Homo sapiens: one gene and its partner. The gene in region 2 interacts genetically with the main gene of each other region. Each region holds a gene or a part of one and is shown on either strand. Other genes may lie near its edges.

What was found. A genetic interaction does not mean that the proteins touch.
Region 1: changes in DEPDC5 (region 2) and RAB1A together harm fitness more than expected from each alone (negative genetic interaction), as found in Homo sapiens cells (one large-scale study listed by BioGRID).

Annotation. Positions count from the first base shown.
Region 1 is NC_000002.12:65,099,100-65,102,750, reverse strand, and holds part of RAB1A (ras-related protein Rab-1A), read left to right. Parts: intron 1-3,651. UniProt on the Homo sapiens protein: The small GTPases Rab are key regulators of intracellular membrane trafficking, from the formation of transport vesicles to their fusion with membranes.
Region 2 is NC_000022.11:31,840,890-31,844,540, reverse strand, and holds part of DEPDC5 (GATOR1 complex protein DEPDC5), read right to left. Parts: intron 1,447-3,651; coding exon 1,329-1,446; intron 897-1,328; coding exon 729-896; intron 1-728. UniProt on the Homo sapiens protein: As a component of the GATOR1 complex functions as an inhibitor of the amino acid-sensing branch of the mTORC1 pathway.

The DNA of each region.
Region 1 (3,651 bases), on a different chromosome or scaffold from region 2:
TTTCACCATGTTGGCCAGGCTGGTCTCGAACTCCTGACTTCGTGATCCGCTTGTCTCAGCCTCCCAAAGTGCTGGGATTACAGGCGTGAACTACTGCACCTGGACATTTTTTTTTTTTTTTTTAACTTGAAAGAACAGCTAACAGACAGATTAGAACAGAATTGGCTATTTGACAGATTTTCTCAGATGAACTGTGATAGTCATTTCAAGGGAAGTAGCTGCAAGCATTTGTTGGCTGAAATAAAATTTAAGTTTATCATGGAAAATTAGAATTTGAAAAAACTTAGAGTTTACCACTTGACAGTATCCTAAATACATATGACTTTTCTGATGAGTGCCGATATTAATGAAGGTTATTTAAAAAATATTAAATAATGTATAATTCTTTTTATATAACAGTTAAAAATAAAACCATGAGTACTAGAATAAAACATAGGTGGCTCTTTAATCTTGGTTTGTGAAGGTATTTTTTAAAATAAGAAAAAAGCAAGAAATCACTGCTAAATTTGACTATTAAAATTAATTTATCACAGGCACAAAAATGTTAGAAAACTAATGGCAATAGCAAATATATATATATGAGGATTGGTATTCTCAACATATAAAGCACATTTGCACATCAACAAGAAAAGAATATTTCTCCTAATGGAAATAGTGGCAAATACATGAGCAGTCAGTTGAAAAAAGAAGTAATACAAATTGCTGGCTGGGTGTGGTGGGTCACGCCTGTAATCCCAGCATTTAGAGGCTGAGGCTGGCGGATCATCTGAGGTCAGGAGTTCGAGACCAGCCTGACCAACATGGAGAAACCCTGTCTCTACTAAAAATACAAAATTAGCCGGATGTGGTGGCGCATGCCTGTAATCCCAGCTACTTGGGAGGCTGAGGCAGGAGAATTGCTTGAACCCAGGAGGCGGAGGTTGTGGTGAGTCGAGATCGCACCATTGCACTCCAGCCTGGGCAACAAGAGCGAAACTCCATCTCAAAAAAAAAAAAAAAAAAAAAAAAGGAAGTAATACAAATTGCCAATAAATATGGAAAAAAAAAAAGGCTCAACTTTATTTGTAATTAAAGGCCTTTAAGTTAAACTTAGGTGTCATTTAATTTTTATTAAATTGGCAAATATTAAAATTAAGCATAATTCTTAAGCAACTCTCGGTAGGTGGGAAGAATCTAGCTGTAGCCTCAGGCGTTTGTGCCTCAAGGAAAACCCTCTCTGGGATGTCCATTGCTTGAAGTCAAAGGTTTTCCAATAATACCTGGAAACTATTTTTAAAATGCTGATCCCCATACCCTCAAAATATTAATAGAGACAATCGTGAGGACTATAATAAAGAAATGTGCAATAAGCTCTGGGGGCACAGAGGGAAGAATCTATTGGCTGAGGAGTTGAAGAAATTGTTTGGACACTCAGTATTGCCTGAGCTCAAAACTGAAGGATGAATAAATGCCACATGACCTTGGGGCTGGGGAGTAAGTAGGGTTATGCAGAGAGAGATAACTGAGGCTTTTGGGCAGACGAATAGTAACGGCTCAGGCATGGGAGTAAAGGTCATTTAGAGATTTACAAGAATTCAGCATTTCTTTCTTTTTCTTTTTTTTTTTGAGATGGAGTCTAGCTCTGTCATCCAGGCTGGAGTACAGTGGCATGATCTCAGCTCACTATAACTCCCACCTCCCGGGTTCAAGTGATTCTCATGCCTCAGCCTCCCGAGTAGCTGGTATTACAGGCGTGTACTACTGTGCCTGGCTAATTTTTGTATTTTTAGTAGAGATGGGGTTTCACCATGTTGGTCAGGCTGGTCTCCAACTCCTGAGCTCAAGTGATATGTGCACCTCTGCTCCCCAAAGTGCTGGGATTACAGGCGTGAGCCACTGTACCCGGCCAAGAATTCAGTATTTCTATCCAAGTACCTGGGGGATAGATGTGCTACATGAATATTTATTGCATTCATTTTGTTCTCTGCATTTTTTTTTTTTTTTTTTTGGTTTGAGATGGAGTCTCGCTCTGTCGCCCAGGCTGGAGTGCAGTCGTGCAATCTCGGCTCACTGCAGCCTCCACCTCATGGGTTCAAGCGATTCTCCATCTTGGTCTCCTGACTAGCTAGGTTTACAGGCGTGTGCCATCACACCCACTAATTTTTTGTATTTTTAGTAGAGACAGGGTTTCACCATGTTGGCCAGGCTGGTCTTGAACTCCTGATCTAAAGTGAGCCTCCCACCTTGGCCTCCCAAAGTGCTGGGATTACATATGTGAGCCACTGCGCCTGGCCTCTATATACTTCTATAGTACCTGATACTTATTAGGCACTCAATTACAACATAACTTTTTTTTTTTTTTTTTTTTTTTGAGACAGAGACATGCCTTGTCGCCTGGGCTGGAGTGCAGTGGCACAGTCTCGGCTCACTGCAACCTTCACCTCCCGGGTTCAAGTGATTCTCCTTCCTCAGCCTCCCGGGTAGCTGGGATTACAGGCGCCCGCCACCACGTCCAGCTAATTTTTTGTATTTTTAATAGAGATGAGGTTTCACCATCTTGGCCAGGCTGATCTCAAACTCCTGACCTTGTGATCCACTCACCTTGGCCTCCCAAAGTGCTGGTATTACAGGTGTGAGCCATCATGCCCGGCCCATATTTCTAAAAACATTTTCTTATAAAATGACATTGCCATTATCAACCTGCAAAATACAGTTTCCATTTGGTTGTTTTCTTGCTTAGTCTTTTAATCTAGAGTTTTATACCTTATCTTTTTTATTTATATATTTTTTATGTCATTGACTTTTTGCAGAAACTGAAGCACTTGTCCTGTAGATTGTCCAATATTCTAGATTTGTCATTTTGCTTCCTTGTGATGTCCTTATGCTTATTTGTTTGTCCCTCTTTCTGTAATTAGAAGACCTAGAACTGCACTATCCTTAGAGTAGCTACTAGCTCTATGTAGCTATTTAAATTTAAATTAATTAAAATTGAAAAAGTTTGGTGGCTCACACCTGTAATCCCAGCACTTTGGGAGGCCAAGGTGGGAGGATTGCTTGAGTGCAGGAGTTCAAGGCTTCAGTAAGCTACGATTGTACTCTAGCCTGGGAGACATCAAGACCCTGTCCCTTTAAGGGGGAAAAATAATTGAAAAAATCAAAAACTTAGTTTCTTGTTTCACAAGCTGCATAGGGCTAATGGCTACCATATTGGCTAGCACAGCTTATAGAACCTTTCCATTGTCACAGGAAGTTCTGTTTGGCAGTGCCGTTCTCATTAGACCTGATTCGATTAAGGTCCATCTTTGTTGACAGAGTACTTCTTAGGTGGTGCTTTGTGGTTCATATGATGATAGCCTGGTCTGTTCATTCATATATCTTTTCACGAGAAATATTTTTATTCCATTCTGAATAAAATTTCATGGCAGGTACTTGCAAGAAGCAGTTATAATTTTAAAAGTTTAACATTAGGTTAAAAAATTGACAGGAAACATATATTCACAGGAAAACTTGTACACAAATGTTCATGGCAGCATTATTCATAATAGCCAAGAAGTGGAAACAACCCAAATCAATTTATGAATGGATAAAATGTTGTATATTTGTAGTACATGTAATATTATTCAGCCAATAAAATGGGCCAGGCATGGTGGCTCACACCTGTAATCCCAGCAC
Region 2 (3,651 bases):
ACTAGTGGAGAGAACGTTAAGAAGGCAATCTGCACTGCCACTTGCATCAAGGGCACGTCATCCCTGAGCTTCATGGGGTTTGTTTTTTCAACTGTGGCAAAATACACATAACAAAAAATTTATCACATTAACCTATTTTATTTTTTTGAGACAAGGTCTTGCTGTGTTGCCCAGGCTAGGGTGCAGTGGCACTATCAAGGCTCACTGTAGCCACGACCTCCTGGGCTCAAGCACTTCGGCCTCCTGAGTAGCTAGGACTATAGGGGTATGTCACCATGCCCAGTTAATTTTATTTTTTTTTATTTATTTATTTTTTGAGACAGTTTCACTCTTGTTGCCCAGGCTGGAGTGCAATGGCTTGATCTTGGCTCACTGCAACCTCCACCTCCTGGGTTCAAGCGATTCTCCAGCCTCAGTCTCCCAAGTAGTTGGGATTACAGGCACGCACCACCACACCCAGCTAATTTTTGTATTTTTAGTAGAGACAGGATTTTGCCATGCTGGCCAGGCTGGTCTCGAACTCCTGACCTCAGGTGATCTGCCAACCTCGGCCTCCCAAATTGCTGGGATTACAGGCATGAGCCACCGCGCCCAGTCAACCCTGTCTCTTTACAAAGAAAAAAAAAAAGAAAAAGGGAGAGAGAGAGAAAGGGCAGAAAGTGTTAAAATACACATACACATCCTTGCCCAAGGATGCAAAGATGGAAATCCAAAGCCCACTCTCTGACCTGAAGTCTTCAGAGCCGGCAGAACAGATATACTGATCTAAGTAATTCCACTTGTACTCCTCCAGCCGTTCGTGGGAGAATTCCACCCAGCAGGAGACGAACTCTGAGTCTGAGTGGGAAGGACAGAGGCTGTAGGTGTAGTGGATCTGGGCAGATTCATAAGGATACCTGCAAAATAAAGGGCAGGTCCCCAAATTCAAAAGAGTTAGAGACAAATTCCTGCCAATTCTTATTTTCTATCTCTATACACTTAGAACCATCCTTGACATTTACCCCTCAACTGTAGTAACCAACTTATCCCAGGGAACGGTACTAGAAATTTCTCAGATCTTCTTAAACTCTTTCCTTCTTCTCTCCTCACAATCTTTATTTGAAATAGGCTTGTCATGAATCATGCTAAACATTATAAGATGAATCAAATCCCTTTTGGAAGTAGGTAAGCTATAACCCTAAAATAACCCTAGAAACAAACAAACAAAACTCCAAAAGAAAAACCAACCACTGAACTTCCTCAGTTTGAATGATGTACTATACACACAATTTAGTATGTGGCCATAATTCAGGACAATAACTGAAGACTTTAAATATCCAAATACTCACTTGGGAAGGTATCGCGTCACTGTGATCATCTTATCCTTCAGCGTCACTTTGTGGAACGTTCTGCCCATACTCAGCCAATACTGGTCCTCCTCCTCAGGGCGGTTTCGGGACACAAGGCCTAACAGAAAAATAATAATTTCCTCCATCTGTTTGAAGCTCATTCCTATAACAGACAATTGTTTCTCATCCATATAGATTCAGAAAACAATGTAACACTTTCTCTTAGGGGCAGTTTCATGGAAGAAAGTTATTCTTGGTTAAAAAAAACAAACAAAAAACTCCTGAGGTTGGCAGATTTTTCTGTTATTAAACCAACCAGGAGCAGATTAGAGCCTGAAGGTGCTAGCTGATAGCACCTAGATGGCACACTCAAAGCTGAACAACCTGATACCTCATCCTCTGGAGAGGAAAGTTCTGTAAGAGATGACTGTGTTACTAAAATGGAACTCTACTACACCAGCATAAGCTGCCCACCTTGGCATTCGAGGTTCTCACTCCAAGGTGGCAGCCAACCTAGCTTTCTGGTCCTAGCTCTCACTAATCCTAAACTGCTATACCAAGTTTCAGTCTAAAAGGACCATTTATTGATTTGCTGCAAATATTTGCTCATGTTGTTTCTTTTTTTTTTTTTTTTTTTGAGATGGAGTTTCGCTCTTGTTGCCCAAGCTGGAGTGCAATGGCCCGATCTCGGCTCACTGCAACCTCCACCTCCTGGGTTCAAGCAATTCTCCTGTCTCAGCCTCCCGAGTAGCTGGGATTACAGGCACGCTCCACCACCCCAGGCTAATTTCGTATTTTTAGTGGAGACGGGGTTTCTCCATGTTGGTCAGGCTGGTCTTGAACTCCCAACCTCAGATGATCCACTCGCCTCGGCCTCCCGAAGTGCTGGGATTACAGGCGTGAGCCACCGTGCTCAGCCTGCTCATGTTGTTTCTTTTGCATTCTCTTCCTGGGCCACCACTGAAATCCCAGATCATCTGAAGTCACCATCAAATGCTACTTCTTCCAGAAAGCCATCAGGCCCCATCAGCAGTCTGAATCCTACCTTGTATATAGTTCCTTGTGCGTATATCTGTCACCCCTTACAAATTAAAACTTCCAGGAGGCCAGGGCTCAAACGTTGTTCCTCCTTACATTTTTAGAAGCACCTGATAAAGTGCCATGTCCAGTATTAGCTGAACTGAACTGAACGCAGGAAAGAGGAAAATAATCAGGAATCAAGAAAATGACAAGTGTTCAAGAGAGTAAAAATCATGCCTCAAAGAACAACCAAGCCAAGCCAAGATTCCTTTGATCTAGAAATGAAAGGCAGTCCTCTTGAGGCAGGAGAACAGGGTCTGGAGGCAGGGAACCTAAGACTAATTCAGGCTGACTTCCTAGAACTAAATCAAAAGGAAAACCCCAACTTTCCACACCTAAGTAACAAAAGGACCGGAGGTTACTCCCTTCACAAACCACTCTCCGCTTTTTCTGTGAGGCAGATGGAAAACTGAAAGTGTCTCTGATTGGTTTGATTTTTACAACCAAACAGACGTTTGCATAGAAGTGTAACTTTGTAACTTCACTTCAGCAACCAATCAGACTGATTGCGAGCCACCACTTCATTTACATAGCGTGTACACCAAGTAACCAACGGGACACTTCTAGAAGGTATTTAAACCCTAAAAAATTCTGTAAAGGAGCCCTTGAGCCCCTATGCTCCAGCTCACTCCCACACTGTGGAGTGTACTTTCATTTTCAATAAATCTCTCCTTTTGCTGCTTCATTCTTTCCTTGCTTTGTTTGTGCATTTTGTCCAACTCTTTGAGGTGCCAAGAACCTGGACACCTTCCACTGGTAACACTCATTCAGCTCTGAGACAGTCACACAGTGACAGGCAGCATGTGAGCGGTCAAGAGGAGAGAGGAGGACAGCAGAGGCTGAAATAATATTCACTGTGAATGTGGAAATTTCCCCGATGGTGCCAAGGGAGTAGCAGGCCAGCTGCATACAAAACAGAAGCTACTCAGGGGACCCCAGGTCCAACCCCAGCACTTTCACTTGCCAGCTTGTGTGATCTTGGGCACCAAATCTCACTTTCTACAGCAAGAAAGAGGGCAAGCCCTCATCCAAGCATTCCTTCTTCATTCATGCAACAAACACTCTGCTGGCTGTTGGGAAGACAATGCCATGGGACAAGGTTCATGAGCATCTGACATCGTACCTGACACCCCCATTCTAAATTAGGTGCACCCCAGTTATTTCTGTGTTTATCCTGCATGGTATTTATTCTTCACAATCTGTGATCAAATATATACTTGTGGTTTATTAGTTTAACATCTGA